Linked DNA regions of Homo sapiens: region 1 is linked to region 2. Evidence: fine-mapped expression QTL. A gene starts in region 2. The other region holds a variant in brackets. All regions are shown on one strand. Distances are from middle to middle. Region 1 holds the start of LOC124900169 (a long non-coding RNA gene). Region 2 holds the start of RBM46 (RNA binding motif protein 46).

The links. PIP is the estimated chance that this variant, and not a neighbour inherited with it, causes the effect.
Region 1: its variant is fine-mapped to the expression of RBM46 in tibial nerve (GTEx, PIP above 0.99).

Annotation. Positions count from the first base shown.
Region 1 is chr4:154,624,092-154,629,471 of GRCh38, forward strand. LOC124900169 (a long non-coding RNA gene) reads left to right here and starts at 2,871. Exons shown (of 6, transcript XR_007058343.1): 1 at 2,871-3,058. RefSeq lists a silencer at 2,698-2,827. The variant C/A (reference allele first, on the strand shown) is at 2,917.
Region 2 is chr4:154,778,393-154,783,772 of GRCh38, forward strand. It overlaps RBM46 (RNA binding motif protein 46), which reads left to right and starts at 2,880. Exons shown (of 5, transcript NM_144979.5): 1 at 2,880-3,044. It overlaps LOC105377500 (a long non-coding RNA gene), which reads right to left and starts at 3,481. Exons shown (of 4, transcript NR_188451.1): 1 at 3,397-3,481.

The DNA.
Region 1 (5,380 bases), 150 kb before region 2:
GCAAAGATTACTTGGCGATACTGGTGCCTCTAGTCGTCCCTTCCCAAAGCGTCCAGGAGAACTGGTCACAGAAGGGATGAGAGCGCACCATGTGCCACACCATGTGCCACACCATGTGCCCCACTGTGGAGGCTTTTTTTTTATGCCTTGGCCTCCTAAGGGAACAGTTGTTTCAGCTGTAGGTAATACAGCGGGACCTTAGTCTGGCCCTGAGTTTGGCGAAGGGCTCTTTATGCTCTTGGCATTGCTAGTAGAGTGCAGGAAGGGAGGAGCTGCTTAAACAGACAGTTCAGCTCAACGTCAGGCCTTGACTCTCAGGGACTCAGCCTGAAACCCAGGTGGATCATTCAGGGTACTCTAGAGGGACAGGACTAATAGGATAGATGTATATATGATGTATATATGAAAGGGAGTTTATTAAGGAGAACTGACTCTCATAATCACAAGGTGAAGTCCCACAATAGGCCATCTGCAAGCTGAGGAGCAAGGAAGTCAGTCTGAGTCCCAAAGCCTCAAAAGTAGGGAAGCCGAAAGTGCAGCCTTCAGTCTGTGGCCTAAGGCCTGAGAGCCCCGGCAAACCACTGGTGTAAGTCCAAGAGTCCAAAAGCTGAAGAACTTGGAGTCCGATGCTCTAGGGCAGGAAGCATCCAATACGGGAGAAATATGAAGGCCAGAAGACTCAGCCATTCTATTCCTTCCACATTCCTCTGCCTGCTTTCATCCTAGCTGCGCTGGCAGCTGATTGGATGGTGCCCACCTACATTGAGGGTGGGTCTGCCTTGCCCAGTCCACTGACTCAAATGTTAATCTCCTTTGGCAACACCCTCGCAGACACACCCAGGATCAATGCTTTGCATCCTTCAATCTAATCAAGGGGCTGGATTTGTTTAACCATCACACAAGGGGCTGTTTTTGTTTTTGTTATTGTTTAAGAGATGAGCTCTCCCTCTGCCGCCCAGGCTGCTGTGCTGTGGCACAATTAAAGCTCACTGCAGCTTAAAACTCCTGTTCTCAAGCAATCCTCCCACCTCAGCCTCCCATGTAGCTGGGACTACAGGCATGCATCACCACGCCCAGCTAATTTTTTAAATTTTTTAGTTTTGTAGAGATAGGGTCTCACAATGTTGTCCTGTTAGTTGCCTAGATTGGTTTCAAATTCCTGGCCTCAAGCAATCCTTGGACTCCCCAAATGCTGAGATTATAGGCAAAAGCCACCAAGCCCAGCTGGGCTCACTAATTGAAGGTTATGAAAGCATCACACCCTTTTTAGGCAATCCCTTCTCCCTCTGTATGGCTGAATGTAGGAAAAAAGTATCTCCCTCCCATGGTTAGTTAAGGATCAGACTCACTTGTTCTAATCTTGCCTGTACAAGTTAGTAGCTCTGTGTTCCTGGACTATTAGTTAGCCTCTCTGTGCCTGTTTCCTTTTATCAGACTGACTTCCTTGCTCCTCAGCTTGCAGATGGCCTATTGTGGGACTCACCTTGTGATTATGAGAGTCAATTCTCCTTAATAAACTCCCTTTCATATATACATCATATATACATCTATCCTATTAGTCCTGTCCCTCTAGAGTACCCTGAATGATCCACCAGGCTGTCGGGGCTTAAATTCCAGCTTTATAACTTACTTCTAGCTGTGTGACCTTAGGAAATGTTCCTGCTTCTTTGTCTCAATTTCCTCAATTGTAAAAAGGGAATAATATTATTACCCATCTTATAGGGTTGTTTTGTCTAATGTGTTAATAAATGTAAACATTTAAAACATTACATAAGAGCTGATTTTACTATTATTATAAAAAAGCTCTTAAAACAGTTTCTGGTCAGCATTAAGAACTCAATAATTGTTAATGGTTAATATTAGTCATGTAACTACCCAGATAATCCATAAACTGTATTAGTCATCCTGTTAAGAAGCAAGGCCTGGTTTGTCTTCTTCCTTTTATTATACAATTTTACTGCTTCTAATTTAAACTCTTGCCTCCCTAAGTTCAATCCAGGAAGAGAGTCAGGATTAAAGGACTAGAAGGAAAGACAAGAGTGCTGATGGAAACAAAACTACTCAAATATAGGTGTTAAAGAGAGAGAAAGAGACAGAGAGGGAGACAGAGAGAGAGAGAGAGAGAGAGAGAGAGACTTTGTCAGCTAAAAATTAACTAGACTGTCAGCTCCTGCGTCTTCTGCATCCCTCTCAGAACCTGGAAAAAAATATTTGCAGTGGTCCTGATGTCCGCAGCAGGCCTTGCTCCGATGGTTTTGCAGAGTAGCAAGTGAAGATTTCCAAAAGGCGGAAGAGCGGGATAAGAGAAGAAAAAGAGATAGATAAGCTAGCACAGGAACAAGGCTCAGAGCAGGAAAGTTACCAGGACAGAACAGGGAGGGACTGACTGTCACAGGGCAGGGAGCAGGAGGAAAGAAGCCACTTTTCAGTGAAAGGTATTTGTAATTACAAGAAAGCCAGGTTCTTCAGGGCCCTGGAGAAACAGAAATACAATTCCCTGGCTTCTGGGGAGAGCACTTAGGGGCTCCTATATCCTCATCCCTTTGGATTTTCCCTTCTCAAACGCCAGAATTTGGAAAAGGGTGGGGAGGGTCTTTAAATTATTTGGCACAAACTCCGAAAAAGTGGAGAGGCTGTGAGCCAGCCACCCTCCGACTAGGTTTTGTGGTGATGGTTGCTGAAATCACTTGCGCACAGGATGACAGGAGCTGGGAACCTCAAGGTAGGTGAGCCTGCCAAGACGCGGGTCCGGGACTCGGCTGGGGCGCAGATGGAGCCCGCCCGGTAGGGGGTGTGCGGAGCCCTGTTTTCTGGGCTCCGGCCCCCAGCCCAGCCCAGCCGCCGCAGGAGCGCTCGGCCAGTAGGTGTCTCTGCTCCTCGGGCGGCCTTGAGCAGTGCCTAACGTTGAGCGTGAGG[C/A]TCGTGCTCCGGGTCTCGCGGGCGGCCGCCTCGGGCGTCGAGTCCCGGAGATTGGACAGACACCAGAGCCTGGGGACCGCGGAGTGACCGGGTGGGGCTGGAGGGCGGCGCCGCGCCTTCTGGGGAGACGCGGAGGTATCAGGTAATCCCCCGGCGGCCTGCGCCAGGCAGTCATGCCCACCCGAGCCCTGGGACCTTTTTCACCTCCTCTTTCCAGGGAGGAAAGGCGGCAAGGGAGGCGCGAGGAGTTAGTTGCAGCCCTGGAGGCAGACACTGAACTCCAAGATAATGCCACTTGGACTCTGAAAGTGGGCTCTTCTCTACCACGCGATCCAGCTTAGCTTTTACCTTTTCTCTAGAGGTAGAGAGGGCCGGGTGCCAACTCCTTGCTCAACTTCTCACTGGAAAAGTGGCTGCCTTCCTCCGTCTCCCTCCCCTGGGCTCCGGCCAGGGGAGCAAGGCCTGCTGTGGACATGAGGAACTCCCTGCCCTGTCCTGGTAACTTTCCTATTCTGCACCTTCGCTTTGCTAGCTTGTCTACCTCCTTCTTTTCGCTAGCTTATCTACCTCCTTCTCTTCTTCGCTCTTCCTCCCACTGGAAATCTTCACTTCCTAGTCCGCAAAACCGTCCAGCGGAGGTTTGCAACAGAGTCGGCTCTTGGAATCATAGCCCTCTTAGGTTGGTGGTGGTTGTGGATTAGAGGGCAGCAGTAGGGACGATTAAAAGTAGTTTTTAATACTTAAATGGTTTAGGGCTTTCCTGTGCCTTTGTTCTGCCTAAACATTAGTTTGATTTACTAAAATCCTCTCCTACCCCATTTCTGGCATTTGGTAAAGAAACCAAGTGAAGGTAATCAGGCCTCGGGTATTTATGTATGTAGAAATCATCTAGCAAAATAGAACGAATAGATCATTTCTTTTGAGGGGCCGTAAACTTTTTTGTATGTTGAAGTGTGTTTTGATACTTGGGTGTTCCCTTGTTGCTGTGGCTGCCTGTTTCATTTGATTTGAGGGCCTTTGAGCATTGTCTGTCATTGACATTCTACTACTGAAGTTTATTCCTTTTGTTTAAAGTCTTAATATTCTTTTCCAGTCCCCCTAATGAATCACGGTTACCATGAGAAGGATGACCTCATGTTATTGAAGAAAAGTCCTGGTCTGAGATTCAGGAAACAAGATTCAGATGGCTTGTGTCCAGTGTTTAGTTCTGGACCCATTTCTGGGGCTAAGTGGCTATGTGATTTTGGTTGTTCAATTTATTTAACTTCTCAGAACCTTGGTTTTCTCATTTCAGGGAATCTGGGACCAATAACCCCCATCCATTGTTATATGACTGCTAAATTCAGTCTTCAATTCTTGGCTGTCTTCTTCCTTGATTACCAGTGGCATTTAACCAAAGTGATCATTGTCTCCTTGAAATACTTTCTACTTGAAGTCTCATGAGGTCTTCCTCCTTCCTCCTTGCCCACTACTTCTCAGTCTCCTTGACTGGTTCCTCCTCAACCCTAAAAGCTAAAGTTTGATGTGTACTAGGCCTCTTCTCTGACTCCATCCTCTCTAAGTGCTCTCCATCTATGACATTTAACATCACCATCTTGGAAGAATCCCACACTTATGCCTCCAACATGGACTTGTCCTCCTCTAAAATCCATACTCAGGTATCCAGCTGCCTTCTTGACATCTTCATAGGCATCTCAAAAGTAACATGTTCAAAACAGAACTCCTGATCTTTACCCCAAATCTGATTCTTCCCAAGTCTTGTTCACCTCATTAAATGGAATCCCTATCTTTCCATGCTCGAGCCAAAATCTTTGCAGTCAAACTTGATGTCTACCATCAGCCTAGTCCACACCTGCATCTCTCTAGTTGATCTATATCAATAGCCTCTGATCTAGTCATCCTAGTTGCTCTCTTGCACTCCCAAAGTTTTTTTTCTGCACACAGCTGCAAGAGTACCTATGCAGGAGAATCATATCCCTCATTGGATGAAAACTTCCCAATGGTTTATCTCATTTAGAGATCTACAAAACTGATTTAGTTTCCTCTTCTTTTCTGGTCTTATCTATTTCTACTCTCCCTTTTGCTCACCAACACTGCAGGCACGTTGGTTTCCCAGTTATGACTACAATATGCCAAGCACATCCCTGTCTTGGGAACTTTGCACATACTTGCCCCTCGGTGTGGAACACTCTTTCCCCAGACAGTGCATGGCAAGCACTTCACTTCCTTCAGGTCTCTACTCATTCAAATATTATCATATCAAAGACGCTGTCCCCTGACCACTCTACATCCAGTAGCCACAATTCTATGGGATTCCTCTTGGTATTATTCTTTTAACTGAGACAGGGTCTTGCTTTGTCACCCAGGCTGGAGTGCAATAGCATGAACATAGTTCAAGGCAGCCTCAAACTCCTGTCTAAAGCAATCCTCCTGCCTCAGTCTCCCAAGTAGCTGGGACTACAGG
Region 2 (5,380 bases):
CATTAATTCTATAAACATGCAAGTAGCTGCCATGTTTTTGGTGGATCTGTGTCATATCACTGCCACAGTGATAAAGGAAGCTGAAGAAGCTCCAACACATGGAAAATAAACCAGATCACTGCACAGGCTCATTTATATGGAACAGAGGACTAAGTTGGATGTTAAACATTTTAAAGATTTCCCATTGCTTCTCTTTCCTTTGTCAGGGGGTGTATTTTGCAGAATGTATATGAAAATAACTTCTAAGTGATATAAAAGCTTGCATCTTAACTTCTAAGTGATATAAAAGCTTGCATTTTATATGGGGAAAATACATGTATTCAGACTATTTTTAACCACTTGAATTTTGCATCTCTTCCTTTTTTTTTTTTTTTTTTTTGAGACAGGGTTTCGCTCTGTCATCCAGGCTGGAGTGCTGTGGCACGGTCATAGCTCACTGCAGCCTCAAACTCCTGGGCTTAAGTGATCCTCTTGTCTCAGCCTAACTCAAAGTAGTTAGGACTACAGGTGTGTGCCACCACACCCGGCTCCTTCCAATTTTTTATTGATAACTTTTACTTCCCATGTCACACAGTCACTATTATTTCTCTTTCTGGTGTTTGCAGAGATCCCCTTCTATTTTCTCCCTTGTATGCCAAGTATCTTTCGACACTTCTTTTTAGTCACAAACACCTTTACATTGCTTATCATCTTCCTTCTTACTCATTTGGGTCACCTTTTCCCATAAGCTCAAATAATCTTAAAACAAATCCAATTTGGAATCTGTTACTGAAGAATTCTAGCTGATAAAAGTGTTTTGGATCTCTTTCTCTGGGAGCCTTGAGAAATAAAGTTAAAGGTCATTTCTTTAATTGTACATGCAGACAATAGTTTTTATAGCATTTGAAAAGTATACCTATTAATAAACTTTAGGATAATAAAAACTTAGACAAAATCTAACCAAAATGACATACAATGTTAAGTATGGGAAGGGTCTTTAAACAACACTGTCTCATCTATGGCAAGGTTCTATGGTCTGACTGTAATGCCTATTGAGAAGCCCTTGTCTATTTGGTTTTCTTTATACTTGGGGAGAAAAAAGACAAAAAGGGAAACAAGAAAACCAGCAATGTTCAACAACCTTCCAGGCTATTTCCAAGAACAATCTTTGTACCTCACAACATCTCCACCTAGTGACTCCTTAAGGATCTTACAGCCATTCCTAGAAATTACTTGTTTTAAATTGCCACTAATATGCCTAACCTCATTTCAGATAATTTAACCTTAAACACATGTATTTAGAATTAATTACTAGGAATTGAGAAGGTACCGACATGAAAATGAAGAATGAGGAGAATCTTTTTCTGGAGAAATAAAAGAGCAGCAAAAAATAGTAATCAATATAACAATCACAGTTCCCGAGGTACAGAATTGGTGACATGTCAAACAAAGCCAACTAGATCTATCAGTCTAGGTTTTCTAGTTGCTTTATTTTGAATGCATACATCTTATATAAAATGACACTTGTATTCATTGACTAAAGGGCAGACGGCTTACAAAAAATATTTGTTGAGCTTCCAGTGTGCATCAAGTACTATGCCAAGTTTTCTACTTGTTTCTGGACGTATTTTGAGACAGTATAGTATAGCAATTATGTCTGTAGGTTTCAAACTGGAGCCACTTACTTGCTATATGACTTTGCCCAAACTACTTAAGGTTTCTGCATCTGTTTCCCCGTCTGCAAAGTAGGGCTAGTAACTTTACCAAAGTTACTGTGAGAATTAAATGAAAATATGAAAAGTCCTTAGGATTGTTTCTGGCATCTGGCTCAATATTTGGTAATATCATATATTATTTTATTCTCACAATCCCCACTTTAAACAGGGTCTGTCTGGCTCCAAAGTCCCTGCTAATTCCTCACTGTTGTAGTATATTTAAAAATTAAAAATATACTTTAACAAAATTTAAATTGGTAGACATTCATTAGTTCCTTGAATATATGGAGAAAATACATTAGGAGTTAATGTGGAAGAAATCACCTTGAGGTTGGGAATAAGGAGATCTGTGTTACTCGGTGAATATTCTGGGCATGAAGTTCCTTGTTAATTAGAGAATCAACATGAGCTAGGTTCTTTATTGTCTAATATTCCATGAATCTAATATTATCTATACATAAATAGTTGGTTCCTAAAGGTGGTTTTTTCTTTCCTTGTCTGCATTTAATTTCGAGCTGTCTTCAAAGGAAGCAAAACTGAAGTTATGCATACCGAATGCCAAACAACCCTATCTGTGAAAGTTGGTTTTACAAGAGCATAGAACCCAGTTCGGCAGTTCGCCTCTGCCAAATGTCCCTGCAAGCTGATTAGTGGTAGCGTCAAGCCTATCGCTAGTTCTCCTCATCTAACCCATTTTCTTAGTCATTGTCATTTAAACCACTTATACTTTATACTTCTAGTCCTATTTGCAAATCCATCTTTTAGCTTTATAACCCACCTCCCCCTAGCCCTTAATTTCAAAGGTCCACCGGATATATGTGGTTGTTTTGCGCCAAACTAGCAGTTTACAAGAAAACTACATCAAACAAGAAAAAGAACCATTACGATGCATCTATGTTTTCCCTTAAGTGCGGAATTTCACACTGCAGCCCTCGTCTTCAAACACCTAAACAATGCACCTAGGACCTTCATTTATTATTCCGTGCCCACCCACACCCTAAAAATCGCTCTCTTCACCCCAATTGCTCGAAATGCCTGTCACTCCAAGCACTTTGACTAGCCCAAGAGCCTCATTTAAACTTTAGCCCCACTCTCTCCTCCTCGCCCCGCCCCGAAGCTAATCCCTGATTGGATGAGGCACCACTCCTCGTGGGGCTGCTTAGGCCACCGCGCGCGCTGCGCGCTGGGAAACGAGTGGAGACACGAGGACCAGCGCGAGCGGTCCCGGTGGGCTACCCTCCCCCTGCGACGACCCCCCCTCGCTCTGACCGACTGGTCCCCTAAACGGTGGCGGCGGTTTTTGGTCGTTGGGCCCCGGGATTTAGGACCAACATTTGAAGACCCGAAGGGGTGAGGAGGGGAAAGGGGAAACGGGGTCACTACCAGACCACTGCTAACGGCTGGATAGTGCCCGGCTCACTCTCACGCCGAATACACAGTGGGGGCTGGCGGCGGTGGCTGCGGGGTTCACCCTCGTCCTTCCCCAGCCCCGTCGAGCAGTGGGAGGGCAAGTGTCCGAGACGCTGCTTCCTGCCCCGGCAGCATCCGGCCAGAAGGCGCCCTCGCCGTCACCCAGGCGCTGCATGGTGAGGGCCCAGCGGCCAGTCTCTTTGGGGCGTCTGGCGGCCTCTTCCGCCCCGCGGCGCCCTGCGCTCTCCGCCTTATTTCCGCTCTCCCCCGCTGCCTTCCGGCCGCTTCCCACCTGTGCTGCATTTCGTGTTATTTTCCTGACACGCTTACGCCGACGACCAACGACCGCTGCAGGCCCGGGCCGCTGCCTGGCCGTTGTAGGGTCCGCGCGTCCCCTGGAGGCTTTGGACGCCGTCTGGGGCGTCCCGACGGCTGGGTGAGATTCAGCAGTCTGGTTTCAGAATTGAATTCAGGCTGGGTGAGCTTTAGCGGGCTCCTAGTCGTTTGCGTGGAGTTCTAGCCGGGACTGAGCCTCGAACTTTACTTTGCCTTTGTCTCCCTGTTTCTTCCCCGAGTACCTCGTGTGTGCTGGGCTGTGGGCAGTGGGAGGCCGCGGGTGCACAGGGAAGATAGCTCGCCTCTCCCCCGACACACGGACGGCAGCACACGTCGTGGCACCGCCTTTGTTTCCTAACATCTGGTAGTTTTTAAACCCCTAATTTAAAAATGTTTCTTTGGAGCTGCTGGAAAAACCACAGAACCAGCGGCATTTAATCCTGGCGTTGATATTCTGAGATATTGCGAAGCTGCTTGATTTATTTGGGCACCAGTTTTCTCCTATGTAAATTTAGCTTAGGTAATATTTAAGTTCTTTAAGCTTTAACTGTCTTTACATTCTTGATAAATTCCCCGTAACCTTTATGTTATGTGGTAATCCTAATATAGGCAAATATCAAAGAGGAAATATCATAAGGAGTTTTTTTGTTTTGTTTTTTGTTTTGTTTTGAGACGGAGTCTCGCTCTGTCTCCCAGGCGGGAGAGCAGTGGCAGGATCTCGGCTGACTGCAACTTCCGCCTACCGGGTTCAAGCGATTCTCCTGCCTCAAACTCTCGGGAGTAGCTGGGACTACAGGCGCGCGCCACCACGCACAGCTGATTTTTGTATTAGTAGAGACAGGGTTTCACCATGTTGGCCAGGATGGTCTCGATCTCTGGACCTCATGATCCACCCGCTTCGGCCTCCCCAAGTGCTGGGATTACAGGCGTGAGCCATCGCCGCCGAGCTTTTTAAGTCTTGGCTTCTCTTAAAAATTGGCCTGATTTTGTGTTTGAGAATGGCGTTATAACCAGGAAGCAGGATATGTTGCGTGTATAAGGAGAATAACATATAAAGGACATGTTCAAGGGTCTGTAGAATTTTGCTTATTTAAATAATGGGAAGATATTTTCGTTTCAAGAATCACCACGATGTATATACAGTTTGACAGACTTCCATTTGGATCTTTTCAGAATTGAATCTCCTTATGGGGGTCTAATAATAGACTTGTTTTCAGGGCACACGTTTAAAACATTCTACTTTAAACTTTGTTTGCATCTGTCTGCATTTGTTTGCATTGTTAATAAAATTTGTTTGCATCTTTATAGACATAAAGATGACAGTGCTGCCTGCAATCACTAAATATTAATGCTTTCTGCTTAAGGCACTGCTTTGATTGCTGATTTTCACTTAAGAGGTTGGAGTAATGTACTTGAATATTATTGCCAAATATAATACATATCAACACTTAAAATATATGCATTACTGGATATATTATGAAACAAGAATTATTAATAACGAGAACAAACCCAGTTTATGGACTGAAATTAAGTCTCAGGTTTAATGGTGTTATTTTATTGTTAGGAGAAGGAAGACATGTCAGTTTAAGTAGAGTTTGTGACTACAAATCAAGTAATTGCTGTAAAAATTGTCCAGATTTGCATATTAATGCCGAATGTTATTTCTCATTTTACTACCCGATGATTGATGAGGCAAGAAAATGTGATCTCTATGTTCAAATTGGTAACAGATTTAAAATAACAGATTATGAAGGACCTTGTGTAAGGAATGGTGTACTTAATTTGGACAAGAATATGTAGATATCTTTATCCTGAATTCAAACAGCATATACACCTTTGTGTTCAAAGCAGTATTTTTTAAAAGTATTAGTTACAGTTTTTTTAAATAGTTCAATTTTTAAGTCATTCAGAATTTAAACTTAATATTAAAACTTTTATCC